Homo sapiens: one gene and its partners. The protein of the gene in region 3 interacts with the protein of the main gene of each other region in a pairwise test. Each region holds a gene or a part of one and is shown on either strand. Other genes may lie near its edges.

Region 1 (7,241 bases), on a different chromosome or scaffold from region 3:
TCACCAGCTCAAAACCTTCCTTCTTTTAAGAACTCAAATGTTGAGGGGATGTCTTCCTTAATCCCTCATCCCAAAAGAGCCCTAAAAGATGAAAGAAAACTATTCTCCTTCCCACTCCCTAAACTTGCCCCCTTGTCTACAAAGTAGGCAGGCCTACTCAGCACAGAGGAGGGAGAAGGGAAGAGAGAGAAAAGACAAAAAGAAGAAACTGTACCTAACTATAGAAAAGTGAGACACTCCCCACCCTCAGCTCCACTGAAGTGCCCCCAGAGGAGTCTGGTCTCTCTGCAGACTCAGGGGGAAGGAAGGGGACTGGAGAAATCAGCCTTAATCTTCCACATCCCCTCTTCTGAAGATCCCATACCCCAACCCCCTTGCTTGTTCTTCTAAGGACATTGGAAGACTAATGGAGAGCTAAGATTTGTGTGTTTGTTTAAAGTAAACTTAGGCAACTATAGAGAAGATGGGATGTTACCAGGCCAGAGAGGGAGGGGAATAAAAAGAAACCATCAGACATTGACGTAAAACTAATTCACATCCACTGGTTTATTATTGATCACGGGGCATTTCACATCGACACTAAAATTCTTTATTGCAAGTTTTACAATAATCAAGTAAATTCAGTCCAAAAACACAATAACCACGATAGGGGTGGGGAGAGATTCTACCTATAGACTGCCTCTCTGAACTGAAAGTTCATTTTGATTTTCTTTTGGCTCCTCAAACTGAACAGCTCTGAGAGGCTCTCCAGATGCATTTAGCTTTGTCTGCTGTCTTCGCCCCCTCTCCTCCCACACCCCCCCCCAACAATAATACAAAAGAACTTCATAGCTTTGTTCTCCTTAAAATGACTTCCCCCTCACTAACCTCCCCTGGTGCATTTTCAATGCAAAAGGCCTAAGGAAAGAGGGGGGGAAGGAGGAGGAGGAGAAGGATGAGAATTGGCTTTAAAATTTCTTTCCTTTTTTCTTTTCCTCATTTCCCCTGAAATTCACCCAAGCCAGACCATCACACCTTGCAATATATAATTTTTGCAGCTTTTTTTCTTAAAAAATAAATAACCCCCCAAAATGGCCTTTTAAAAAAAAACACCCAGCAGGTACCATGCTAAGACAACATCACATGCTTAAAAGGGTCCTTAACAGTGGGAGGGAGAGGAGGGCAGGGGGCTTGTTTGTTTATCTGTTTTGTCTGTTTGGAACTGACAAGGGACAAGGTGAGAGGAAGAGAGAAAAGAACCTATATATATATATATATATATATATATTAAATTCTATAAATAAGAGTCAATTTGTGTGTGAGGGGAGGGTGGGGGCATGGGGTGGGGGCAGGGGTGTGAGTTATGTTTTATAACCTGGTAATGTCCTCTGCCCGTTGCTGCTCCGGCGGCGTGGCGCTCTGGGAGTGGTCTTCAGAAGTACCCGGGGTAGCTGCCGAAAGGGTGCTGGGCGCAGCGCCGGCCGGGGGTGCTGACCTGACTTTGGTGTTGGGGAGTCGGTGGTCCTTCTTCCATTTCATGCGACGGTTTTGGAACCAGATTTTGATCTGCCTCTCAGAGAGGCACAGCGAGTGGGCGATCTCGATCCTTCTCCTTCGGGTCAGGTAGCGGTTGTAATGAAACTCTTTCTCTAATTCCAGGACTTGCTGCCGGGTATAGGCTGTCCTCGAGCGCTTGGGTTCCCCTCCGTTATAATTGGGGTTCACTGGGGGGAGGGGAAAAGCAAATAGTGGGGTTCAGAGGCAGCAGGCTCCCCGCCCCCCACCCTCACCCCATCCTCAGCTCTGAGAAACAGGAGGAGGGAGTGGTGGAAATAAAGTCATCAAGCTTAAATGGGTTATAAAGAAGTTGAAGGAAGCTGAAGACTTTGTAGTGTAATAAGAGGGGAATCCTCATTGTAACGACACTGAATTATTTATGCGCCCTTAGAAAGCGAGCATAGTTTTCACACATACATAACAGATCGTAGCACATGGCTCGGACTGCCCAGAGTAGCTAAGCCATAAAATTTATGGGGGATGTAATTACCCATTCTCGCTCGTAAATCCAGTTCAATTGTGCTAACCCAGAGTCGCTCCTGGAGAGAGAGGGGGAAGGAGAGAAAGGAGGACGGGGGCCAGAGGGGGCCGAGGAGGGTGGGGAGCGCTAGGGAAGAAGGGAGGGAGGGGGGGAGCAAAAAGCAAAGTTGCCTACCCGTGCTAACGTGAATTTTTTTCATCCATGGGTAGACTATGGGTTGCTTGCTGGCGGCGCTGGAGGGATGGTCGGGGGCTGGCTGGCTGCAGGCTGGCGGGGCTGGGGACGGGGAGGCGGAGGCGCCTGAGAGAGGCGCCGGCTCGCAGAGCGACTGTGATTTCTCGGGGTGGTGGTGGCCCGCCTGGGCCGGCCCGTGGCCTCGCGAATTGCCGGGCCCCTGGAGACTGGTGCAGCTATACTGGCGCTCAGGGTAGCTAGGGCGCGGAGGCGGTGGTGGGTACAGCTCCTGGTGGTGATGCTGGAATCCCGATTCCCTGGTCCGGCCGTAATATTCCGGACTGTGTTCAGGGATGTAGCTATTTTGCGAATATTCTTCGCATGGAGGAAATTTCGGATCGATGTAGTTAGAGTCCATCAAATACGAGCTCATGATCATTAATTTCTGGAGTGGAAAATAATTTTTCTCGCTTTGTCGTTTTTCTGCTCCATAAAGCCCTCCTACTAGCTAGCGACCCTGTAAAGTTACTTTCACCATGTGACTCCTCCGGCCAATCACACGGAGCAACCCAGTCCCCGGATAAGGAACCGAATCGCTTTATTCAAAATGTATCCAATTTTTTTGTGTGTGTGGTGGTGGTGGTGCTGGGAGGCGGGGGTGGGTGGTGATGTGGGGTTAGCTAGCAGAGGTTGGAGTGCCCCCAGTGCACATCCCGCCAGACTGACAACCCTCCCCTGCAAAAGGAGATGGGAAGCTCCCGGCTCCCCTCCAAAGCCCGGGCATTGGGGGACTGTCGGGAGGCAGTGATTCAGCCCCCGCCCAGGGTCTCCCCTCAGGCCTCTGCTGGGCCCCGTGGGCCTCGGCTCCTGAGCTTTTCCAGAGGTCTCCATTCATGGCGATCGTGTCTCAGTCTGTGTAGGTCACGGGGCAGCGCCCCTCTTTCGCAGGAAGAGGAAGTTGAATGAGGACTGGAGTGGATGTTGGATGGGGAGGGGCCCAGGCTGAGCCGAGGAGGCTGGAGAGCCTGGAGTGCCCCCCATCCAAGGATACCAGAGTCCAGCCCCTCTTCCCCATACACACTCACCCAACCCTCTGGCCATGCGGCCGGCGAGGCAGGGTCCCAGCTGGACCAGGCAGGTAGAGGCAGCGGGATGCAAATGATTCTGACGTCATTTCTGGAGGTCTGGGGGTTGAGCCCCCGCTGAAGAGAGACAGGAAGTGGTTGGCAAAAGCAGAGTTCAGAAGTCTCGCCTTCCCCTGCTACCCACTGACCCTCCCTGCCCCAGCCCCAGAGCAGAGGATCTCTTCTACTGCTGGCTTCTGTTTCCACTCCCCATTCAGCCCGGCCTGCTATTTTCTGACAATTATCTCCAAGGAGCTGGGGCAAGGAGGAGAGCTTTCTGCCAGGAGTCAGTGCCCTGTGATGGTGCCCAGCCAAGATCCTGAGAGTTCTTTCTCTGTCCCCACAGAGGGCAGACCTAGCTAAGAGGGAGGCCTGTGTGGGTAGAGCCTGCTTGCTTCTGGCTAGGAGCTGTATCCATGTAACACGTGTGTTTACATGTAAACACGAATTCCTAAAGGCCAGCTCCAGGCTGCTTTCCAAAAACGGAAGGCTAAGCTCACCAAGTTGGGGAGGCACGGCCAGCCTTTGGGGTCTCCAGCCCATTCACACCCCCTGCTCTCTCTCTGCCACCCACTCACAGTAATACTCTGATGGAGGGGGGTGACAGGGCCGTAGAGGAGGGAGGGGGCCAGGAAAAGCTGCTTTCCTAACCACCACCCCCCCCCCCCAGCTAGGGGTGGTCCTGTCATGCCACCGATTCCAATTAACTGATCGCCCATAACTCAGAGTTGCGGGGGGTAGCGGAGGGGAGAGCCCAGGGAGGGAGCCGGGTCCCCTTGTTGTACTTGATAACAATTATAGTTTAAAATCATAGCTTGCCAGGGCTCAGCTATATTTTACTTGATAACAATAAAAGTGACACATAAAGTTAACTGTTTATGTTTTATTTATTAGACTAAATCTGCCAGCGGTGGTAGGAGCGCTTGCCTCGTCGCTACAGCTTTTATAGGGCTGTAAAACGTCATAAATCAGTCTCGCGGAATCGCCCGCACTCTTTGTGTCGGCGGCGGCGCAGGGCTGGCGGCCGCTGGCTGCCTGCTCCCTCCTTTCCACGAAAAGTCGTAATGTGATTTTTTTTCCCTCTGATTTTATTATTATGATCGCCGCCGTGATTAGTCAATCTACCTTTAATTCGCCGCCCTACGCTACCTCCTCCCAGCCCAGCCTGGTTGACACTTGAATAAGTACCTTTTAAAACGGCATAACAACTATTTGAGGGTTTAATTAGAACATCTGCAATTAAGGGAATGAGGAGGGGAAAGGGAAAAAAAAAATAAAGCCCTTGTGAGAGGGAGACTGAAGGCAAGAGATTCCAATCCTTTTCTCATCACCTTTGGGATGTTGGAGAGGGTCCCCACTTCCAAATTAGGGCTTCCCCAAAGGGCTGGAATGAGAGGGAAGCTGGACCCACAGCCGTGCCCAAAGGGTGCGGATTCCCGCCTGGGCCCTCGTTGCCTTCCCTCCTCCAATGCTTAGGCCCCCAGCCCCACCCCAGGCTCAGCAGGGCCAGGGCTTAGCTCCCAAGGAGCTGGTGCTTGGTGGTCCCTGAATACTCTCTCTCCAAGAGGACAGTGCCCATCCCCACTGTAACCAGGCCAGGTGAAGGAACAGGAGTTCCCCAGAGGCTGAACACCTCTAATGGAGATTCCCAAATTCTCAGAGTTGGCTGAGAACCCTTGCCCACTCTTGTCCGGAACTCTCTGCATGTGAGGACAGGCTGGTTTGGTTGGAGAGGAAGTTGAGACTGTGAGTGAGGGGGCGGAGGAAGGCTACTGCTTGGTTAATAGTGGTTTGGGTTGTGTGGGGTTGTCTTAATCATTGGTGGTGGGGGTGGGTTCATTATAAATTGCTGGAAGAGGGCAAAGGGAAACCAGTGCTGAATCCTAGTACCTAAGTCTGAACTGTAGTCCCAGATGGCTCCACCGGGAAGTCCAAAGCTCAGCAAACTTTGGTGCCATGTGGAGAGGGTTGATGAAGAGGGAGGAAACCTTCCCGGCCCCACTCCCAGTCTCCCTTCTAGGCCTGTACCTGGATGCGGCTGCCTCACCTGGAAAGGTGAGCTGTGAGCCTGACTCTCATCCTCTCAGCCCTCACACTCACCTTTTACCATCCGTGCCCTGACGCTAACCCTCTTTTCTTCAATCTTCACCCTCCTGTACTTGTTAAGGAGTCCTCCCCAATATGTTGCCTGTCACATCCCACCCCCGCCAGGTTTCTGAGCTTCTGCAGGGGGGTCAAGGAGACTGACTTTGGGCCAGTATAAGTAGTAGACACAGAGGGTTCAGATGCCCCCAACTGAATGTCAAGTCTGTCTTTGGTTATTATGGTTAACATATATGCGTGCACACTATTAATATTTATTAATATATTAAATGCCTCTTTATGCAGCTATAAATATGTAGAGTTTTCATTCCAGGTTCGTGCAGCTAATTCAACATGCACATCCAGAAAGTGAAATCTCCAAGATTCCCCCAAATGTGCCCACACTCATCTACATCATTTACAAAACAACAACAGCAACTCTCTTTGGGCTCCTATAGCTTAATAGCAAGGAAGTCGCCTGTCACATGGGTAAAATACCACACACATACACACAAACATTTTCACCTGGATATTATTACAAGCACAGAAATAAAATCCGTTGGAAGGGCTTTTGCACTTAGCAATGGCTTAATTGGGAGGGGGTGGGGGTACTAAAGCAGCTCTCATCTGTGATGAATCCTTGTATCTGGTCCTGTCTTCTTTTGTGTTTCACCCTCCTGCCTCCCGCCTTGCTGGCCCAGGGGCTGCACCTCTGCCCTGTCCTCAACCTCACTTTGCCCCAGTTTTATTTATTTTTATTTTTTCTGACTACCTTTTGCCAGCATCCAAATGCTCTCTGCAATTGCCCCTCCACCCCATCTCCTTTCTAAATCTCGATTTGGTTTCTCTTTCGGAAACACGTTTCAGTACAAAGCGCTTCCCTTCTGACATCGCTGAAGAAAAATATGTGTCCATTGTGTGTGAGGCCTTATTGTGCCTGGATTACCATACTGACCGTTGGATAACCCATATTCCTCCCCTCCCCAGTAACAAGCTGCCGGCTGAGAGAGCTCAGCGGCTCCATAGATTCTCTGCTGCATTAAAATCGTACCCCTCTCTGATTTTTCCAAGGGAGAAAAATAAATGGGTGAACCAATTCAGGATTTGGAGGGCAAAGGGAAGGAAAATGAGGGTCATTCCTTTCCCTACTCTTTGAAATGCAGGGTTTATGTGTGTGAATGTTGTTGTTGTTGTTGTTTTAGGGATTAAAAATTGCAACATTTCTGTTTCCTTTCACTCATATAAATTGAATTTTAGATGGTATGCAATCAGGCAATTCATTTCACTTTGATTTTTTTTTCCTTTGGGCAACTTGAAAACCCAAAACTAAATCAAGGCTCATAGCCCATTTTTTTCGTGTGTGTGTGTGTGTGTGTGTGTGTGTGTGTGTGTGTGTGTGTGTGTGTGTATGTGTTTGTCCCTTTCTAATGCCGGCAGCCAGGGCTAATGTATGCAAAAGAATATGCAAATCTTAATTGATTTTTTCTTAAATCTCTTGTCAGTAAAAGTAATGAATTGGTCTAAAATGATTTTAATAACCTGGATGTGTCACCAGAAAATACTCAACCTTTTTTCTTCTCCTGGAATCGCTTATAGTCTCAAAAAAAAAAAGCAATCATGGAATGTTAATTTGCCCCCCTTTAAAATATTAAAGATGAATTTCTCTTGTTTGTTTGGAGACCTTAGGCAAGGTCCTCTCATGGATTTCTCTTGCCTTGCCTTGCCTTCCTTGGAATTCAATTTTCCTCAAATCTCGTTTAAAGTGGCTTTTTAAAAAGTGGCCGCATTTTAATATTGGTTAGACAGAGTGACCTGCATTTCACCTCGGGTGTTTGACTTGTTCC
Region 2 (7,903 bases), on a different chromosome or scaffold from region 3:
CTGATTTGAACGAGGCTCGGCGCAGCCGGGCCCTTTTCGCAAAGTAGGCCCACTGCAGACCTGTGGGAACCTCCGGGATGCCTGGGGACCCGCATCTGCCGCTACCCGCAATTTCCTATCCCGACCCTCTCTGCAGTTGTCGACCCCGGCCGGCGGCTTTGAGCGTGGGGTCCCGCAGACCCTGGCACCTAGGGGGCCGAAGCCGAGGGATCTTGGGGTAGAAGAGCGGTCCTACAGAGCTGCCGCTTCGAAAGAGCCCCCAATCGACCGCTGATGGGGAATGGAGGATTTTGCTGTTTTATTGCAGCCCGCCCCCGGAGAAAGGCGGGCTCGGACGTTCTTGACTTTAGGATAGACTGGGGAGGGGTGCCGAGGAGCGTTCTTCCCTTTACGTCTCGCGGTCGCAGACTGTATTTGCTGGTGCCCTGCTCACTGTGATCTCGCAGGACCTTGCGGACTTACGGAGACGAAAAGTGGCCTACTTTGAGCTTCTCTGATCCTTAGGGGAAATGAGTGTCCAAAGAGAAATAGGTGCAGAGTGCCGGCACTAGAATTCTTTAAACCTGGATTCAAATTCTGACTCCACCACTCTCCAGTTAGGACTGAGGGCAATTTATTTTTAACTTCTCCAAGCCTCTGTTTACTCGTTTATGTAACTCAGGCTAATAACGTAGTGTCTATTTCATAGGGTGGCTTTGACTATTAAGTGTGAGAGTGCATGTAAGAACAGTCTAAGGGAATTTCCCTGCCTTTCCCCTTGTCTGCTGTCACTCTCATCCGTGTTAGACAAATGGAATTAATTAACCAACTTCCGCTTTTCTGAAGCACGGGTAAAGAGTGAAGTGCAGGACTTGGGTAAAGGAAAAACCAAGAAGGATGCAAAAGATGGATGGTCATTGTGAGATCCACAGAGGTGCTCATCCCAGCACTTTCACCTCACTTGGCATCTGTCACATGGTGGGTGCTTGATAAGTACATGGGTGAATGAGGACCTACCTAAGCAGAAGGAATTATTGAATAAGACTAGAATTGCAGGGAGAGGATGAATCAGATTGATTAGCTACTTGACAAAAAAAGGCAAACCACTCTTCCTGTCAGAAATGTATGGCACATCTGCATATTTCAAGGGCTGCCACTTACTGCAACTGGGAAGGAGATCTCAGAACCGACACCTCAACTATGGAAGCTTTAATCTATTGACAGCAAATGCAACATAGCAAGTAATATAAGACAGAATGTGATCAGTGCAAAATCGAATAATAAAGTCTTGAGAGGGGGTTATTAGAATAATAGACGAGTGTTTAGATTGAGTAGTGAGCAATGAGATAAGTCCTTTGACTTGGGGGTACAGGGGAATTATGACCAGGGGTATGGGATAGGGAGAAGGTCATTCTGGAAGGCAATAAAAGGCAGACAGGACGCTAGTGGTAGAAAAAAAGGAAAACACTTGTTTATCAATGTAAATCAATGGCGGAAGAATTACATATGACATATGCTATTGAGGAATACCTTTCAACCGTTCAAATGACAAAAGGAGTGTCAGAACAATATATATTCCATTTTTGTTGAAAAAATTTGTTTATATAGATATAATTTGTGGGGTATTTGTACAAGAAAAGGATGCACTCCAAACTTAACAGTGATTACCCCATATTGAAAATTGTGAAACTTTTACCCTACTTGCAAGCTAACAATTTAACTTGCCACAGTTTTATGGATACTAACAGAAGACACTGGACTCCTGCGTCAGAGACAGAAGACTTTATTACTTAATAACACAGGCATCATAAGCTTTATATTCCCTTGTTCCCAAAGCTTATGTTCCCAAAGCCCACAGAGGGGCCTAAGCTTGGCATTCCCCTGCTAGGATGGAACAGTGGGTTTGCAACCTAGCAGAGGAATGCCAAGCTTAGGAAGCCCAACCTTTGCTCAGCCTTGCCCCAGAATGAGCCATTATCTTTATTATCCTGGTCAGGAAACAACTGTGATCTAGAAGGAGATACAAACATCCTTGAAAACCTAACCTCAAAGAAAAATCTACCATAAGACTAGGAGTAATTTGAGAAGCCATTAAAGAATTATCTCCCAACATTCTAGGTAAATACTATTTGAGGGTGGAGATGTCAGCTTTTAAGAATTTTATATAATATTAATCTTTATCATGTTTCATTTATTTTTAAAAATACAAAAAATAAAAGGCAAGCATAGAAGTTTAAATTTTACTTAGAGATAAGGAACCACTCAGGGTCAGTGATTGGAAGAATGATAATGATATTTAAGGACCACGTCTTGTATAGTTAGGAAGGCTATCTCAAGGCTGTTGCAGTCACATAGGTGTGAAGTAATTAGAACTGAGGATGGTGGTTATATTAATGGAGAAAAGTAACACTTCAAAGGAGAAATCTGGCTCTGATAATTTCTCCTTTATCTCCATGTTTCATTGAGTAAACTAAGGAAGCCTCTCAAGCCTGAATAACTTAGAAATTGGCGATATTATCAACCATTCTAACGGATATGTGGTGGTAACTCATTGAGGTTTTAACTTTGCATTTCCCTGATGAATAATGGTTACTTTTTAGTGTGCATACTGGCCATTCTTTTATCTTTTGTAAAGAAAGTGTTTAAATCTTTTGCCTATTGGTGTTGAATTATCTTATTCATTAAATTGTGAGAGTTCTTTATATATTCTGGATAGTTCTTTGTCAGATAGATGTATTACAAATATTTTTCAGTGTGTAGCTTTTTCTTCACTTTCTTAATGGTGCTTTTTTTGAGAAGATTTAAATTTTGATGAGAATTTAAGTTTAAAATTTTGAAGTCAAATTTATCAGTTTTATCTATTACAATCAGTGTCTGTGTGTCCAGTTTGAGAAAACTACCTATGGCATGACGCTATTTTACTTCCTATGTGTACACAACTTTGTACATAGTATGTGCAGTCATAGTTGTGTGCACATTGAATTTGTACAACTACATATGTGCACAACTTCAGACTTAAAAAAAATTTATTTGTTTATTTATGTTGAGACAGGGTCTTGCTCTATTGCCCAGGCTGGAGTGCAATGGCAGGATCTCAGCTCACTGCAGCTTCTGCCTCCCAGGCTCATGCGATTCTCCCGCCTCAGCCTCTGGAGTAGCTGGGACTACAGGAGCCCACTACCATGCCTGGCTAATTTTTGTATTTTTTGCAGAGATGGGTTTTTGCCATGTTGGCCAGGCTGGTCTCAAACTCCTGAGCTCAGGTGATCCTCCCGCGGCTTCACAAAGTGCTGGGATTACAGGCATGAGCCACCGCGCTCAGCCAAAAAAGTTACTTTTAAAATGTGAAAAAAGAAACTGAAAGTAGAGTTCTAGTCTGTCACCAGTTACTTCCAGTTACCATCCCAGGTGGAAAGCAACAGCTGTGAAATAAAAAGCAAAAATAATTACTTTGAAGGAGTCCAGAAGCACTGTAGCTTCCCAGTGTTTACTATTATTTACTTGTTTTCATGTGATAATTAGATGACAAAACCCTTAAATCAAAACGACTTTGTCAGTACGCAAAATATTGGGGAGTTAGTAATTGGGAAGGGATAGAAATGTTGGTGGTGGCTACCAGCAGGAGCAGATAAAGAGGGAAATTAAGGTGAAAATTGGAGGAGCCCTGAGAACTCAATAATAGGTGGTTGGGAAAGGTGCTGAAGGAAATAAATACATGAGACTTAAACAACAAAAAATAACACTTGCCACAACCTCCACCCCTGAAATCCTATTAGTCTCAAAAGTTAAAAAGCTCTAATGCAACAGGTCTGTAAAGAATGAACACAGGGCCAGGGTGGTGTCTCATGCCTGTAATCCGAGGACTTTGGGAGACTGAGGCAGGAGGATCACTTGAGCCCAGGAGTTCAAGACCAGCCTGGGCAACATAGTGAGACCCCCGCCCCGCCCCGCCACCCCGTTTCTACAAATTTTCTTTTTTAAGCTGAGGGTGGTGCACACCTGTAGTCCCAGCTACTTGGGGGGCTAAGGTGGGAAGACTGCTTGAGCCCAGAAGGTTGAGTCTGCCGTGAGCTATGATCACACCACTACACTCTGCAATAGAGACCCTGTCTCAAAAAAAAAAAAAAAAGGCAAAAAAAGAAAAAAAGACTAACAAAGAAAGAATGAACATAGATTTGTTCCCCATATCTTGTGGTATTAAACCTAGGGTCTACTCTTCAAGCTTACATCATAGGTTTAGCATTAAAACAGCTAAGCAGCAAAGCAGATGCTGTAAGCGATAGAAATTCATTAAGATAGGAAAGAGTGGGAAATATGTAAAGATCCAAAAAGAATATATATTTAATTACGATTTTTTTGAATACTTAATAAAATATGCTATTCCTAAGTGCCATGCCATAGGGATTTCACAAAACTATGAACTGTGATTAGCAGGAATTCCTCATGAAGTTTGTACTCTATGTGAGAGGTCTGGATATGTTTATGAATCGAGAACAGTAAAGTACAGGGTATGTAACGGAGCCAAACGCGAATCCAGTTGGAATCCTAAGGATCCATGAAGTGCTCCCTCCTCCAACACTTTCCCAGCCTCCTATTCACAGCTCCAGCCTCCCCACGTCCGATATCTACCCCCAGGGGACCGTTACTATTGACAGCGAGCGCGCGGAGCTGCATGGGCACACAAGGCGGAGGGGACACCAAGGTCCGTTATTCCCCAGCACGTTCACTGCCCCAGCGACAGCGCAAGCCTGAGGCACGCAGACGCGGGAGGAACCCGAGGCACAGCACACAGCAGGTGAGGGGCGTGGTACTCCGGTACCCTCAGTCGGCCGACCATAGAGCTTGTAGACCTCCAGGACTCCTAGAGAGCTTCCGGAAGTGCCTTTGGGGCAAGATGCGTGCTGGCCGGTGTTGTGCCTCCGCAGATTTAGAAGTTAGTGGCCGGAGGGGCCTGGTCCGAGTACAGCTTTCATCGCCTTTACTCCCCGACCTTCCTTCGAGTCTGTTTATCCGTTGCAGCCTCCCTTCCCCACGACGGGGCGCCTCTGCAACTCACAGTGAGTACGGTCGGGCTCTGGGCCGGAGGAAAGTGGGTGCTTTGTGGCTGGTCCAGGCCGCAGCTGAGGACTGGCCTGAGGGGTCCGGAGAGGGGCCTGTGCGGTGTTCGGCGCCGCGGACCGATTCTGACGCCTTAGTTGCTGTTGCAGGCAGAGTACGTCCCCACGAATTGCCCTTGAACTTTTTGCGAGGGAACCTTTTATGAAGCTTTCTTCATAGATAATCGTGTTGTGGTATGTTTTTGTAGTCGATCTTGTTTATCTTAAAATGGGGAACGCCCCCCCCATGTTATTTTTTATCCAACTATTTCCAGAGTCTGAATTGTTTTCACTTAGCGCTCTTTTGCGTTTAGGTCACAACAAAATTCTCAGTTTTTAAAAAAGACATATTTTGCTTTTGGAAGCCCCGTTTATCCATGGAAACCAATTTTTGCTGTTACTCTTCTTTCTTTAGTGTATTCAGAAACTGGTGGTGTGTTGACTAGATAATTGTACGAAAGTTTTTTTTTTTTTTTAATTTCAGGGTAATTCAGAATTCAACATTATCAGAATGCCTATTTCATTTGTTAAAGCAAACTGAAGTTAGCCAACGAGGAACTCTGGGAGGGCCCCATTTCCAAAACTCTGGTTAGTCATGAGTAATTTTTGTCAGGCTACTTTGACTGCCACCACCACCTTTAAAAACATATTTCTGTTGTTTGTTAGTTCCGTTGAGTATATTTACGTAGCAATCATTGTTTTAGCAAATACATACATGTTTTGAATTTCTGTTGTTTAAATGTAAAATGTGATAGATGTTAATTAAAACTTTCAGCTAATGCAATTTGAGATAACAAAGCATAGTATTGGCTTCACCTACTTTTTCTTGGATTTTAAATCCTGGAAAATGTCTTTTTTGTTTTGTTTTCAGTTCCCAAACATTTCTCAAATTAGACATAGTCTGAAGGAAGAATACATTCCTTCCACAACTATTGAAAAAATAATACTGTTAAAATTGAGTTGTGCCTTCAGCATCTCACAGGATTACAGTATTTAAAATCCAGAGGAAGCTTTAAAGATTGCCTTTTAAACTCATGTAAACTTGACTAGGTGTTCTTTAAGGAGACTATGTAAAAATCAGTCTGTATCCACAAAGTGCTCACCAACTTAATACAGACATGTACGCACAAAACTGAGAGGAAGGTACATACTGGAGTAATTTTGCACTCAGTTATTTATAGGTTGTAATTCTCAAAAACCAGCTGATCAGAGAGGGAAGAGACTTAAAAAAATGGAAAATTAGCCACTAAATAGAATAATCAAGATGAGCAATGGGCAAGACCTGTTGGCTGATTTGGTATAAAAAATGAACAAACCTGATAATTAGCTGGTTTTCATCAGTGTTGTTATTGAGACTTTTTAATACCACATCAACAATATAAAGTTCTTGAATGCTGCGCACTTCACATTAAAATATTTTATAGCCTCCTGTACTGGTAAGTAGTGGGATTGCACCTGTGAATAGACTCTGCACTCAAGCCTGAGCAACATAGTGAGACCCTGTCCCTAAATAATAATAATAATATTTTATAGCCATTATGGATGAGGATTGCTCAGTAATAGATGGCCAGTTGTTCAGTAGTTAAAAATGAACCTTGGCTTTAAGGAAATTTATAAGAAAACATGGTAAGACTACCACTATATAACATCACATTCTAAACAGAATTTATGTCCCATGTATTGACCTTTAAGTTTTTAACATTAAACCATAAGTAGCTATTTTAAGAAAATTTAAGAGTTTGTTTTGATTTGAAAAATTAAATTATTTTAAAATTAGCTAAGACCATTTTAAAATAAATTATCTTAAAATTATAGATAATTTATTCAAACAAAAACAAATTGTCAAAACCAAATTGATTACCCTTTCTCAACAAAATCTCAGCATCTTCCTCAAATTCACTCTTCCCCCAAATCTCACTATTCTAGCAAATTCCTCCACTTTCCTGTAAAGTCATAATCAATGAACTATACCCCCAATGTTAATTGATATATTTAACCATATCTTTTGCTCCTTGGTTCTTCTGATCTGTAGTTTACTCTCCACCCTGTTGTTCCCGGCCTTGTCTAACTTGAAAAATAATTTTCAAATTCCCTTTCTTTTCTGTACACACTCTCTATGTAGGATTTGTTTGTATGTTTGTTTGTTTTTAACCTTCCTGGCATTCTTGGATGGCCTTTGAGTCTGTGAACTCTGCCGAAATTGAGTATACAATTTTGTATCTGTGGACATTTTGCTGGAAAGAAGTTCTGTGTTTTCTTTAGGTTGAAGAGTCTATAAACCAACCCCCCTCGCCCCGTGCCACAACTCCAAAAACTGAAAAGATAAGCACTGCCTTGATGATCCGTATGGGGAACTGTATGTACAGTAATCTGATTTTTTTCCTAAGTACCTATCTCTTCTTTGTGGACTATAGGTCTCTGGTTTTATCTTGATGTTAGCATCTCATGACAACTGGTTTAGGGTATGCTACCTTTACTTACACTCTTCTTCATTCTCTACAGTATCTTTGAAATACAAAGATAATGGTCACCTCTGTCAACAAACATTTGCAATAAGGCCATGGCCACATTCTCACAATGTGATAAGTCCTATATTTGGACCATGTTAAAAATGCTTTGGTAGGAATGACAAATGGCAGGGGGATGACAGAGAAGAACTCATGAAAAAGGTAATAGATAAATTAGAGTTAAGAGTTGAATGATTTTAGGCCGGGCACAGTGGCTTACGCCTGTAATCCCAGCACTTTGGGAGGCCGAGGCGGGCAGATCACGAGGTCAGGAGATCGAGACCATCCTGGCTAACACAGTGAAACCCCATCTCTACTAAA
Region 3 (7,023 bases):
ATTTTGAAAAGAAGGAAAGAGGAATGTTAGGTCTTTTAAGACAGATGTTTAGTCTTGTATTGAAGGAGAGTGAACACCTAGATGTATCCTACGTATTAGACAATACTGTCTTGTCCTTTGACTTTTACTAGTCTCTTGAGAAGTTAATATTTTAAATAGGCTACTGGTACTTGCCTTGGGGAGAAAAGGTTCAGGGTTACTAATTTTGTTGAAGTTACTGAGTTAAGCAGTTTAACTCAATGAGGGGTGGGAGGGCAAAGGTGGCAAAAGGCTATCATAATTTTTCTAAATATTCCTAGTGGGATCAATAGACTTTCAAATTCTTTCTATCTTAAATATTCCATTCCCCCTCCCCCCCAGGCTCTTCCAGGAGATCAATAGCTATTATCACTAATGGAGTAATGGTACCTCTGTAGACTCTTCAGAGGTGGAGTTCTGCCAACCATTATTCTAAGTCATGTGGCTTGAATTGTTCTCTTCTTGGGCGTGGAAAGAATACAGATCATACAGCTTGCCTTTCATGTGTTAGCCTTCCCAGTAACTGAAGCAGATATTAAGTGCTTTTTCTGATTATTTTGGAAATCTATGTGTTTTTTGAATTCTACTGAGATTCAACATGGCGCTAAATGTTCATCCTCATTGCAGTCCTGGATTAACTGCAAACCTAAGAGTAGGATTTCATCTCTTGTACTCAGGGAAGCCTTATTTATTAAGCCAATCTTTAAATTATTGAAAAGAGTGGAGAAAACGATGTGTTTTTATCGAGGTAAAAGTTGCGTAACATAACTGTCACATAGTCACATCAGATTTCAAGTGCAATTGAGTGGCATTGGGTACATTCCGTGTTGTGCAGCCATCACCTATGTTGAAGAAGAGAGAAAGTGGTTATTTTTAAAAAGTGATGCCGGTCTGGACTACAGCTGGCTGGAATTCAGCACCTATTCAGGAATGTGTCGATAATGGAGTGCCCACAACAGCTCACAGCCAGCGATAATTGTCTATCCCTTTGTCTTCATTTCCAAGCGTCTGAACTGAAAAAAGGGAATTAGCTTTAGCTACGTTTGTACTGTATTTCCACTTAAAAAGTTATGGAACTTGAACACTGTATAATGTTCACCCAAATAAATAAGAACAATTTACTTGAAATCTGAGCAAATCGTTAACTCTTTGGGGATTATGGAAATTTTGCTGGTGTTCTAGTGACTCGTTTTCAGCCCTAAGGCTGGCTTTATTATCAGTGATTTGCCGCCTGTGTGGTAGTGGTTTCCTAATGAGTAGGATGCAGGGTTGAGACTGGGGAGCTCCTGCAGCATGAGGCTCTTAACTGATGGGACGCCAGCACAAGACATTCAGTACATTGTGGCTGTCAGGAGCTGGATGGGAAAAGTAGTTACTTTTCCCTTCTTTGCCCATTCCCAATATCAGCAGTCCTAACCTTATTTTATTTTATTGTATTTTATTTTAATTTTTTTGAGACGGAGTCTTGCTCTGTCACCCAGGCTGGAGTGCAGTGGGCAGTGGTGTGGTATCTCGGCTCACCGCAACCTCTGCCTCCCAGGTTCAAGTGATTCTCCTGCCTCAGCCTCCCAAGTAGCTGGGATTACAGGCACCCACCACCACGCCCAGTGAATTTTTGTAGTTTTGATAGAGACAGGGTTTCACCATGTTGGCCAGGCTGAGCTCGAACTCCTGACTTCAGGTGATCTGCCCACCTCAGCCTCCCAAAGTGCTGGGATTACAGGCGTGAGCCACCGTGCCCAGCCTCAAGGACCACTTTCTATGCTCGGTAGTCAAAGGGAAATACTACTTTTAAATGATATAAAACGTTATCTTCTCTTTGCCTTCTTTTGAAAGTTACTTAGTGTTTTACCAGATATTCCAGTCTATAATTATGTGTGCGTTTGATTGCTTGTTTTTTGTTTTTTTTTTTTTTGAGGCAAGGTCTCACTCTGTCACCCAGGCTGGAGCATGGCTCACTGCAGCCTCCACCTCACAGGCTAAAGCGACCCTCCAGCCCCAGCCACCCAAGTAGTTGGGACTACAGGAGCATGCTACCACACCTGGCTATTTTTTTGTACCGTTTTTTGTAGGAACGGGGTGTTGCCATGTTGTCCAGGCTGGTCTTGAGCTCCTGGACTCAAGCAGTCTGCCCATCTTGGCCTCCCAAAGTACTGGGATTACAGGTGTGAGCCACCACACCCAGCCCGGTCTATAATTATAATGCAGCTAAATGTTGCCTTTCTACAAAGGCTACCAATACCAGCTGCCTTATGGCCTCTCCTCTCAGAATTATTTTTCTGTATCTTCCCCAAATTCCATTTTAGGTGTCAGCTATCATTTTGATTAACTACCAAAACATATTATTTTACTTAAAATTGTCATTTGTAGAAATCTTGAAAATTTTGATATTTTGCTAAATGAATTTATGAATTTGAGTGGTAGAAAATTAGTTACACGAAAACTGATTTAAAAAATTCCCTGGGTCAGGCACGGTGGCTCACGCCTGTAATCCCAGCACTTTGGGAGGCTGAGGCAGGTGGACCATGAGGTCAGGAGTTGGAGACCAGCCTGACCAACATGGTGAAACTTGTCTCTACTAAAAATACAAAAAATTAGCTGGGCATGGTGGCATGCACCTGTAATCCTAGCTACTTGGGAGGCTGAGGCCGGAGAATTACTTGAACCTGGGAGGTGGAGGTTGCAGGGAGTTGAGATTGCACCACTGCACTCCAGCCTGGGTGACAGAGCAAGACTCCATCTTGAAAAAAAGAAAAAAAATTCCCAAAAGAAAGCTTTAATTTTAAGGTAAATAGTTATAAATAATTGGTTTGCTACCATGATTTTGTAGAAAAAATAAAAATTGTAAATCTTAAAAGACCATGTGCATGAGTCTTTTCTTTCTGTTTAAAGAACTGGTGAAGTCTTAGTTAAATTGCTCCCAGCATTTCACTTGTTAAGTGTGTGTCCTACAGAAATAGACTTTTCTTTACCTGAGTTGAATACTACTAATATGTGCTGCATGGCATTAAGTTTTGGTTATGGGCCGGATGTAGTGGCTCACGCCTGTAATCCCAGCACTTTGGGAGGTCGAGGTGGGTTGATCACTTGAGGTCAGGAGTTCAAGACCAGCCTGCTCAACATGGTGAAATCCCATCTGTACTAAAAATAACAAAAATTAGCTGGGCATGGTGGCGCATGCCTGTAATCCCAGCTACTAGAGAGGCTGAGGTAGGAGAATCACTTGAACCCAAGAGGCAGAGGTTGCAGTGAGCTGAGGTCATACCACTGCACTCCAGCCTGGGTGACAGTGTGAGACTCTGTCTCTAAAAAAAAAAAAAAGTTTTGGTTGTGAATAGGAAAGAGAGTGTTCTTACATAATTTAGATTTTTAACATAACATTAAAACAATAAAATTATTCCAAATAAACTCTTGGGCTTCTTAACCTTTGGAAGGGTACCTGTCTTTGGAGAGAGAAAGCCCATTTTGGTGAGTGGGACCCAGGTACCCAGCTTTCCTCTGAGCAGGGGTGTCCGAGTTGGGAGTATGACAGTGACAGCAGTGGCCAGCTGAACACGTAATGACAGTAGCTGAAGAGGAGTCACTGATCCACCCCCAACCTGCCGCAAGCTGAGTATGAAGAGCAGCTGCCGTGGGCAGGGAAGTGAGGAATGGCTAAGGGAGCGAGGGGAAGGCTTTAAAAAGCCAGGTTTCTTTTGAAGCCGTAGAGATGATTTACATTTCTTGAGCTGTCTGAAAGGAATTACTCATATGACTCTAAAGCTACCATATTTAAAAAACCCAGATCTGGGAAACAAAATGCCTATGGTGCTAGTTCTTTAAGAATGTAGAAATCAGCTTGAATTTTTGACTGTTTCTATACAGACTGCTTTTGTAGCAATCTAACATGAAGCAGTGAGCATGTCTTTGCAGTGGAGGTGCAGCATAGTGAGTAGCCATGCGGATAACCCCATACTCATTGGCAGTATGTTATAATGTGAGGGCCCGCCTGGCCTGGGTAGGCTAAAGAGCAGTGGTCCCCAACCTTTTTGGCACCAGGGACCCGTTTCATGGAAGACAGTTTTTCCATGGACTGGGTGGGGTGAGGGGTAAGGGGATGGTTTGGGGATGAATCAAGCACATTGCATTTATTGTGCACTTTATTATTGCTACATTGTAGTATGTAATGTAATAATTATACAACTCACCGTAATGTAGGATCAGTGGGAGCCCTGAGCTTGTTCTACAATTAGATGGTCCCGTCTGGGGGTGATGGGAGACAGTGACAGATCATCAGGCATTAGATTCTCATAAGGACCATGCAGCCTACATCCCTTTTGTGTGCAGTTCACAGTAGAGTTGGCACTCCTTTGAGAATCTAATGCCACCGCTGATCTGACAGGAGGCGGAGCTCAGGTGGTAATTCGAGCAGTGGGGAGTGACAGACTTCCTGCTCTGCAGCCAGGTTCGTGACAGGCCATGGACCCGTTGGGGACCCCTACTATAGAGAATAGATGTTATTATTTTCAAACCTTCACATTGGGTCTTGTATCTGTGTAATAGAGGTTAAGACTGGAAGTTATTTTTCCTACTAGGTTGAAAAGACCCTACTCAGAAAGGCGAGAAGAATGAACAGGAGAGGAGAATACGAACAACAGAAAAGGGCATTCCAAGGCGAGGAAAGCTAGTGGGGACAAGGGAGTAGGGAAGGAATATTCTAGAATATCTTGGATCTTGGAATGCCATGCCTATTTAAGGGAGTCTGTAGTCTTTGGAAGGCTGTGAACAATGGGATTGACTACTGAAGACAAAAATGTTGGTGGCCTTTCAGGATGCTAGAAATTTCGGGGGGAAATGACAAGAAGAATCACCATAATGATTCACATGCAGGGATATTTCCATCGTGTCTTTTTCTACAGTTTATATTCTTTTGCACCTTGCTTTTTTCACTTGACATCATTTCAATGATATTCTGTCATTATTTTCAGTAGCTGAATAATCCTGTGGATATATCATAATTTAATTATTTTTTTGCTTAGTATTCAGGCTGTTTCCAAATTTACATTGTAAATAATATTGATGTGTGGGTATAGATGGTCCCTGATTTCAGATGGTTTAACTTAACGATTTTTCTTTTCTCTTTTCTTTTTTTTGAGACAGTCTTGCTCTATTGCTCAGGGTGGAGTGCAGTGGCGCGATCTCAGCTTACTACCACCTCTGCCTCCTGAGTTCCAGCGATTCTCCTGCCTCAGCTTCCCAAGTAGCTGGGATTACAGGCATGTACCACCACGCCCGGCTAATTTTTGTATTTTTAGTAGAAATGGGGTTTCCCCATGTTGGCCAGGCTGGTCTCCAACTCCTGGCCTCAGGTGATGTGCCCGCCTTGGCCTCTGGAAGTGCTGGGGTTACAGGCATGAGCCACTGCGCCTGACCTTAACCTGACAATTTTTCAACTTTATGATGGTGCAAAAGCAGTAGGCATTCAGTAAGCTCCTCCACTTAGGATGGTCATGTCCCCATAAATGAGTTGTACATGGAGGAGTATCTGGTATCTTTCAGGCACAATTCGTACGTTAAGACAGACCCAAGAGGGGAATTGCTGGAAAACCAGCTAAGAATAATGTTTAAGGTCCTCACTAGTACAGGACCTTGAAAGTTTTGAAAGATGTGTTTGAATAGGTATTATGTATACATGTTTCAGAATTCAAAAGGCACCCATTGCCCTTTGTCCTCTAGGAAGGAAAATGAGGTTGAAGCAGGGGTAGGCTCGATGCCAGCTTATTTGAGGCAAGGGCCCATCTCCCTTATGCTTCTTTGGAGTGATTGCCTTTTTTTTCCCTTTGACTAATGGAAACTTTCAAACATACAAAATAAAGACAAATAGTACAGTAACCCCCGTACACCCAGCTTCACCATTTTTCAGCACATCGGTCTTTTATCTGTATTTTCTTACTCTTCTGGCCTCCTCGGGGATTATTTACCAATTTGGAAGATGGCTTTTTGGAGACAGTCTTGCTCTGTTGCCCAGGCTGGGGTACAGTGGTGCAATCTCAACTCACTGCAACCTCCCCCTCCTGGATTCAAGCAATTCTCCTACCTCAGCCTCCCCAGTAGCTGGGATTACAGGTGCCCACCACCACGCCTGGCTAATTTTTGCATTTTTAATAGAGACCAGGTTTCACCATGTTAGCCAGGCTGATCTCGAACTCCTGACCTCAAGTGATCCACCTGCAGGCATGTTTTTGTTTTTCATCGTTTGCTGGCCATGTAGAAAAAGACTTCAGATGTTTGGAACTTGATCTATTTATTGAGGAAGGGCAAACAATATGGCACAACTTCAAACAAAGCTATCATTAACAGATTAAATTTTTACAACTTACATAGAATGTATTTCTACCAACATTATTTGGAGCTGTGGCATGTAGATTCTCAAAAACACTTGCTGAGTGAATTACAACTACCTGTTACTTTCATTTTTTGGTACCCTGTTGCATTTTGATCTTGGTTTTCTCTTTTCATCATCTGGCTGTGTGTGTGTGTGTGTGTGTGTCTGTGTGTGTGTGTGTGTGTGTGTGTATTAATAAATGATGACCAAAACGCGTCTGGACCGCAATGGAAAACTTAACGGTACTTTTTGGTATTTTTTTTTTTTTTTTTGAGACAGAGTCTGCTCTGTCGCCCAGGCTGGAGTGCAGTGGCGCGATCTCAGCTCACTGCAAGCTCTGCCTCCCAGATTCACGCCATTCTGCCTCAGCCTCCCGAGTAGCTGGGACTACAGGCGCCCACCACCACGCCCGGCTAACTTTTTGTATTTTTAGTAGAGATGAGGTTTCACCGTGTTAGCCAGGATGGTCTCAATCTTCTGACCTCGTGATCCACCTACCTCGGCCTCCCAAAGTGCTGGGATTACAGGCATGAGCCACCACACCCGGCCGGGAAGACGAGATTTTTTAAATTACACACTTAGATGAAATATTGTAATATAGTTTGACGTTTACTGTCACCTTGGGAAGCATTTTTATGTAC
Region 4 (7,343 bases), on a different chromosome or scaffold from region 3:
ATTTAGACCAGGCGTGGTGGTTCACGCCTGCAATCCTAGCACGTTGGGAGGCTGAAATAGGAGAACTGCTTAAGTCCAGGGAGTTCAGACCAGCCAAGGTAACATAGTGAGACTTCATCTCTACAAAAAATTTAAAAATTAGCTGGACATGGTGGTGCACACCTGTGGTCCCAGCTACTCGGCAGGCTTGAGCCTAGAAGTATGAGGCTACAGTGAGCTGTGATTGCACCACTGCACTCCAGCCTGGACAACAGAATGAGACTCTGTCTCAAAAAAAGATAATTTTTCAATTTTATGAGAGAAAATATTATATTTTAATCTGCATTTTGCTAGTTACTGAGTTTCAGCATCTTTTTCATGTCTATTTTTGTTATTTGCATTTACTGCTTTATTTTATTTTATTTTTTTTTCTGAGACACAGTCTCGCTTTGTTGCCCAGGCTGCAGTGCAATGGTTCAATCTCGGCTCACTGCAACTTCCACCTCCTGAGTTGAAGCGATTCTCGTGCCTCAGCCTCCCGGGTAGCTGGGACTATAGGCGCGCACCACCATGCCCGGCTAATTTTTGTATTTTTAGTAAAGACGGGGTTTCACCATGTTGGCCAGGCTGGTCTCGAGCTCCTGACCTCAAGTGATCCTCCCACTTAGGCTCCCAAAGTGCTGGGATTACAGGTGTAAGCCACCATGGCATTTACTGCTTTGTAAATTATCTTTTCATATCCTCCTTTTCTATACAGTGGTTTGCCTTTTTCTCAGTGATTTAAGAGGGTTTTTTTCCCCCCATATCTTTTGGATATTAATCTTTTGTTATACAGTCTCCAGAGTTTTTCTGGCAGTTTGTCACTTGTGTTTTGTTGAATAGATTATCAATTTTGATATTGTCAAATATTTTCCTTTGTGGCTCTTGGATTGCTCTTTGAAGCCCTTTAGTACCCTATGTTCTCCTACATTTAAAAAATTATTTAGAGATATTTTTTAAAAGTTTGGTTCTTCAATTTATGTGGAAATTAATTTTGTGAACAGTCTGAAGTAAACACTGACCTCATTTATTTTTCAAATGAATAACTAATTGTCCAAGCACTGTTTATTATTTTGCCCTACTGACTTCAAATGCCATTTTCTATATGAAATTCCCATACATACATGAGACTGTTTCTGTACTCTCTCTTCTGTTCCATTGCCTATGCTTATCTCAATACCATATAGATTTAATTTTATGGTTTTATAATATACTTTGATATAGGGAAAATCCCACCCCCTTTATTTCATTTATAATATAAAGTTCTTAAAAAACTATTCTTCATTGTTTATCTGCCTGATTCTCACTTCCTACTTCCAGATGACAGGGTTCCAGACGACAAAGAGGTAAAATAAAAATTACCCATAGGCAAGACAAAGGAGCATGGGAAAATGAGGGAAAGGAGACAAAAAAAAAAAAAGAGAAATGCTCTTAAGGTGGGACAATTTTTCCCCTACACTTCAAGAAGCAACTTTATGTATCAATATTTTGCCACATTCAAAGTAAGGTAGATTTTGTGTGTTTAGGATATTTCAGCCACTGTCTAAATCAAAGGTGTCTCTGACTTTCATTGCTAGCTAGTTACCAATGGCAGAAACCATGTAAACAAAAAAATGTGAATGGAAGGGAATAGAAAGAAACATGAATCAATCAATGTGAGAACATGAACAAGAACTAGAGAGAATAGAGACATGGTGAGACAGAATAACATACTTGTATTCTTCTTGTGGAACCAAATGTAAGGAAGTCAAACCTCTGAGCTTAGTGCATTCATTGTATCCTGGGTTCTTTGTTATCTCTGTTTACAGTCACTTGATGTTTTATATGGAACATAGAGAGGTTGATTCTTTACTGGATAATTGAAGTGACAGAGAAAGGAAAAGTACTATTAGGAATTATAGTAATGAGTAACAGAAAATACCATTTACTTGGAGGTAGGTTGGTAAGCATTAAAAAGAACTGAGTGAGCTGGGATCAAGCCACTGTACTGCAGCCTGGGCGACAGAGTGAGCCTCTCTCAAAACAAAACAAAACAAAACAAAAACTGAGCAAAAAAGTGTTTGTTAGTAAAATACGCACACTAAATAATATAACCTTTAAATCTAATCATTGTACATAATAAGATTATATTCAACTTAAAATTGTATCTGTTTTCATTGTAAAGCTAATATTACACAAGTGGGAAAAGCTGTCTCCTAGGCAAGTGTGGTTTTAAGTCAACAGTTAATTAAATTACTTACAATGAATTTAGTTGTTCCTGGTTGAAAAGACATGTTGATAGGGCATGGTGATTATCAAGGGACTTGTGTCCAATGCAGTGTGGCCAAAGTTTCAGGGCTCAGTAAACAGGAACAGGCAATAATAAAATCCTTTAACAACCACTCACACAAAAATATCCTAATTTTTTCATGGTGCCAAAAGGGAACATTGTGATTTACTGATCTTCTTTTAACTTGCCAATTTGTAATTAGCTGCCTTATGTTTAAAATCAGACTATTTTTCCTAGTGAAGCAACAATTGGGTAAGTTTTATTTTACTCAAAAGTACAATAAAAATGTATTTTACAGCCATTTCTTCCCTTGCTTACATTAGGTTTACGGTTAGAAAAACACTCTTAATTCCATTTGCCATAATGAGATTATTTACCATTACCAATAGCAAACGAATGAAAGATACATTTTCTAAAGCAATGGAACACTAATATTTTAGTACTCTAGTTGTCCCTGCTGAATCGGCATTTTAAAATGTTCGTAACCTGTCAGCTTCATGAAACCTAACGATCATTGGTTTAAAACATTTTTGTAAACTTGAAAGTGTAGCTTGTGATAAACAACAAAAAAAGAAAGAAAAGAAAAATAGGGTTAAGTATTTTACGTATCAGATGAATTAACATGAACTGCAGGGCAAGACTTCTGTAGGTGGAGCTCATCCGATAACTGTGCTAAGGAACCTCCTGCCGAGTTCCTTGCTAGCTGCTCGCTCGCAGCGTGGTCCTCGGCCCCGACGCGCGCTTTCGAGCTTGTTCCGCAGCGGGCGCTGAAGAGAGGCGGCCGCGTCCGGACGCTCTGATGCGGTTGCGTACGTTTTCAGCGCTTCCCGCTCTCCACCGGTTGGACTGAGGCTTTTAAACTGCAGTCTGCTCCCGAGTCCGGCTTCCTACTCGGTCTGGTGCCCCCTGGTGCTCGTCCCCTCCACATCTTGAGTAGTTGCGAAGAGCACAGGGGTCCAGGCAGACAAGGATGCTTTCAAGAAAAACATTCCATGGCGGCAAGCCGCATGGATCCACATTTCCCGGGCCCAGAGCCTTTGTAGACATTGCATGTGGACATTCAGGAGCTCTAGAGAAAGAGGGGGTGTTGTTTCACGAAGCCACCAGCAGAAGAAAGGTGGAAAATAAGTTTCAACCAACTACAAAGGCAGAAGTCAGCCCAGCCCCCCAAGTGTGGTCAAAGACCCATAGATCCGTAGACCTTATCTTTTCTTGAATCCACCGCTCCCCCAACCCCCCTTTTATTATTTTTCAGACAAAGCAAAGATAGAGTTCACTAGGATCCCCGATTTCAGTAAGGCAGCCCTTTTTTGAGAGCCAGAATATCCGTCTCGGCCGGGAGCTGAGAATGTGGCCTTAATTGATGAGGGGAGGAGGATGGAAGGTAATCCTCCGTGTCTCCTCCTCCAATCCGTTTAATCAATATTAATTTCATGCACAATCTTCACAAAGTTTCTTTTCCCCTCCTCCGACTCAGAGCTCAGGCTCCGGTTATCCTGCTTTGCCCTTCCCTTCCACCCTCACAGCCCTGCAGTCACTCAACACTACTGAGGCTCTCTCCATTAAAGATGAACAACAGATCATTTTTCATTGCATGGCAACCCTAAGAGCTCTCTAGCTTAGCAGAGCATGATGGGAGTCTTTCCATCCCCCCCCCCACCCCCCGCCCGCTCGTTCCTCTTCTTTTTTTTTTTTTTTTCCTTCCTTTCCTTCTTCCACAATTAATCCCTAAATAATGATTTTCCTAAGCTCGCGCGGACTTCGGGATGGGGTTGAGCGACCCGTGATGACGCTCCCATCAGCCTTTCAGAAGGGACGGTTTCCAAAGAAAACTACAACTCCCACGAGGCATTAGGCTACAGCAACCGCAAGGCATCACGGAAGTCGTAGGCACTTTTCTTCTAGGTCCCGTTCATCCCCGCCAACCCGTAAACTATAAGTCCCAGGGTGCCTCGGGGCTAGCACGCCTGCGCAAAAGCCCCGGAGCGAGTTGGGGGGTGGGGCTGCTCCGGGCGGCGGGGGGCGGGATCCGAGCGGGCTGTGTGGAGGCTTCAGACTCCCGGCGCCATTTAGCGCGGAGAGTTTCCCGGGTGGACGCGGCTCCTCTCTCGGCCACTCCGCACCCCCATCTTCGGTGACAGAAGGCGCCTGGTGGGGGTGGCTGCTCTTTTCTCTCCCTGTTCCCCCTCACCCAGTCCTCTAGGTCTCCTCTCCTCTTGCCTCAGAGAAGCAGCGGAGCTCGGGCCCCGCGGTGAGCGGCCCTCCCCTCCCCGCCGTTCCCTCCTCCGTCAGCCCCCGGCACCGGCCCGGGAGGAGACGGGTTTGCCAGGCCTGGGGCGGGCGGGGAGGCCTCGGGGAAGGGGGGGCCCGCTCCTCAGGCGCCGAGGCTCCGAGGCTCCGGCCCTTCGCCTCTGGGCGATGGGCGACCTGTGAGGCCGGTCCCCATCGCTGGGGGCGCGTGTGGGAGGAGGCGGCCGCCCGAGTGACCGGGAGCCGGGCCGCGGCCTTCCCTCGCCCGCCTCGGCCCCTCCCACTCCTCTGCCCCGGGGCCGCCACCGCCCGGGCGTCGGACCTGGTCCCGTGCTCGCGGTGCCGCCGCCCTCTGGGCCTAGCCCGCCCAGCTCGGCGAGCGGCGGCAGTGGGAGCCGCGTCCGCCGCATCCGCCTCGACTCGGTGCCGGCCCCTGGCCCTCCCCTCATGACTGCGGCGCCTCTGCTGCCACCGCCCGCCCGGCCGCCGCTCGCCGCAGGATGGATGCGGACCGTGCGGCGCTAACCCCCGTGGCTCAGCTCCCGAATCGCCCGCCTTCGAGCCCTCCTCGTGAGCCGCAGCAGCCTCGGTGCCAGCCCCCGCCGCAGCTGGGCCCAGCGGTCCGCCTGTCCCTCGTTGCGGCTTGTCGGTGCTGAGTGAGGCGTCGTCCGGGTCGGCGCGAACCCGCCCGGCCGCGGTTCCCTGCAGACCTCTGCGCGGGCGGCTCGGCCCTTCACGCCCTTTTCGTTCACGAATCCGAGCCCGCTCGCCTCTCTCCAGCGAACCGACCATGTCTGGCGGCGCCGCAGAGAAGCAGAGCAGCACTCCCGGTTCCCTGTTCCTCTCGCCGCCGGCTCCTGCCCCCAAGAATGGCTCCAGCTCCGATTCCTCCGTGGGGGAGAAACTGGGAGCCGCGGCCGCCGACGCTGTGACCGGCAGGACCGAGGAGTACAGGCGCCGCCGCCACACTATGGACAAGGACAGCCGTGGGGCGGCCGCGACCACTACCACCACTGAGCACCGCTTCTTCCGCCGGAGCGTCATCTGTGACTCCAATGCCACTGCACTGGAGCTTCCCGGCCTTCCTCTTTCCCTGCCCCAGCCCAGCATCCCCGCGGCTGTCCCGCAGAGTGCTCCACCGGAGCCCCACCGGGAAGAGACCGTGACCGCCACCGCCACTTCCCAGGTAGCCCAGCAGCCTCCAGCCGCTGCCGCCCCTGGGGAACAGGCCGTCGCGGGCCCTGCCCCCTCGACTGTCCCCAGCAGTACCAGCAAAGACCGCCCAGTGTCCCAGCCTAGCCTTGTGGGGAGCAAAGAGGAGCCGCCGCCGGCGAGAAGTGGCAGCGGCGGCGGCAGCGCCAAGGAGCCACAGGAGGAACGGAGCCAGCAGCAGGATGATATCGAAGAGCTGGAGACCAAGGCCGTGGGAATGTCTAACGATGGCCGCTTTCTCAAGTTTGACATCGAAATCGGCAGAGGCTCCTTTAAGACGGTCTACAAAGGTCTGGACACTGAAACCACCGTGGAAGTCGCCTGGTGTGAACTGCAGGTAAAGCCCCACCTACTTTATTTGACGGTCCTTTGGATCCCAAATTTGGCTCGGCGAAGCCAGTTGATCGAGTTCACCCTTCACTTGGCATTCTCTGTTGGACTCCGAGTGGGACGGGGAGGCCAACTTTTGAAAGGGGCTGAAATTAGGAGAATGTGGAGCATGTGCCTAGGTGTTGGGATAGGATAAGAATTATTGGTAGCCAGAGGGATTTGCTACCGGGCAGCGGTGGTGAAGGTCATCTTAGTACAAACGAATTGTCTCCTGGTTTAGAGTCTGGCAGGAAACTTGGAATGAGTGGGGAAGTTGAAAGTACAGATGCTTCTTCTTCTGTGCATTTCAATCTCATCAAAGGCTCTGCAGTGATGAGCTGCGTCTGGGTGTAGAAGCGTGTTTTCATTCCTGAGATCAGGCTGTTCTTTTTAAATGAGAACAACCTTGTACCTTTGGATGTATTTTGCTTGATGGTTGCACAGGCATTTAGTATAAAATAATTATTAAAAAAAGACTCTTCTCTGCCCCTTTTGGATGTTTGATGTTGTTCTACCTAATGATGCTTAAGCCTTACAGTAGCAGCATTGCTCTGACGTTCATTAAACTAATGTCTTTCAGCCCATTCACTATACAGCGAATAGTATAGGAGCCCATGCAAAATTGTGTAAGTGCTTTGAGAGTCGTAATGTCATCATCATTGTTTTAATCTTATAAAATATCTTTAAGCTGAACTTTCCCAAGAGTCCGAAGGAGTCGCAGCACTTCCTTTTTTAACCTCTAGTGGTGTAAATAATGGTGTGTCATTCCGGTTGACTAGTACATTCTAGGTTTAAACAGCTGAGTTTGGGCTACTTGTTGCTTGACTTACTGAAGCAGCTTGCTTAAATATTGCCCTGATTGGGCATAGGTGAACATAGGTTATTAGTAGGAGCAGGTTTATGCTGAAGGAAGTCAGCCACATTATGCATGCATAAAAATTGCCATTATTGATATAGTAATCTTGCCAAGAATATAGACCAGCCTGATACAGGATATGAAAATAACTGAATGATCTTGGAACTTATTTTATCCATGAACTAATATGTTAACACGTAACCCTTTGAATGTCAGGTTCCAAATAACTAAGGCCATATCAAATGTGAAATTAACACAGCATGTGGAAGTAAACTTAAAAACTAAGAAGTTCTTTACAAACATAATCATTTCTTAACTTTTACAGTTAATGATGTAGAACTTCTAAGGTAGTGTGAAATTAAAACTACT

Evidence for each region.
Region 1: the proteins of YWHAG (region 3) and HOXC4 interact in binary tests that used the Homo sapiens proteins (3 or more experiments, as listed by UniProt).
Region 2: the proteins of YWHAG (region 3) and ZKSCAN8 interact in binary tests that used the Homo sapiens proteins (3 or more experiments, as listed by UniProt).
Region 4: the proteins of YWHAG (region 3) and WNK1 interact in binary tests that used the Homo sapiens proteins (3 or more experiments, as listed by UniProt).

The regions. Positions count from the first base shown.
Region 1 is NC_000012.12:54,049,312-54,056,552, reverse strand, and holds HOXC4 (homeobox protein Hox-C4), read right to left. Parts: upstream 2,719-7,241; 5' UTR 2,631-2,718; coding exon 2,192-2,630; intron 1,704-2,191; coding exon 1,348-1,703; 3' UTR 523-1,347; downstream 1-522. UniProt on the Homo sapiens protein: Sequence-specific transcription factor which is part of a developmental regulatory system that provides cells with specific positional identities on the anterior-posterior axis.
Region 2 is NC_000006.12:28,136,994-28,144,896, forward strand, and holds the start of ZKSCAN8 (zinc finger protein with KRAB and SCAN domains 8), read left to right. Parts: upstream 1-4,889; 5' UTR 4,890-5,036; intron 5,037-5,217; exon of another isoform or gene 5,218-5,270; intron 5,271-7,337; exon of another isoform or gene 7,338-7,431; intron 7,432-7,903. UniProt on the Homo sapiens protein: May be involved in transcriptional regulation.
Region 3 is NC_000007.14:76,348,969-76,355,991, reverse strand, and holds part of YWHAG (14-3-3 protein gamma), read left to right. Parts: intron 1-7,023. UniProt on the Homo sapiens protein: Adapter protein implicated in the regulation of a large spectrum of both general and specialized signaling pathways. Binds to a large number of partners, usually by recognition of a phosphoserine or phosphothreonine motif.
Region 4 is NC_000012.12:748,239-755,581, forward strand, and holds the start of WNK1 (serine/threonine-protein kinase WNK1), read left to right. Parts: upstream 1-4,340; 5' UTR 4,341-5,327; coding exon 5,328-6,086; intron 6,087-7,343. UniProt on the Homo sapiens protein: Serine/threonine-protein kinase component of the WNK1-SPAK/OSR1 kinase cascade, which acts as a key regulator of blood pressure and regulatory volume increase by promoting ion influx.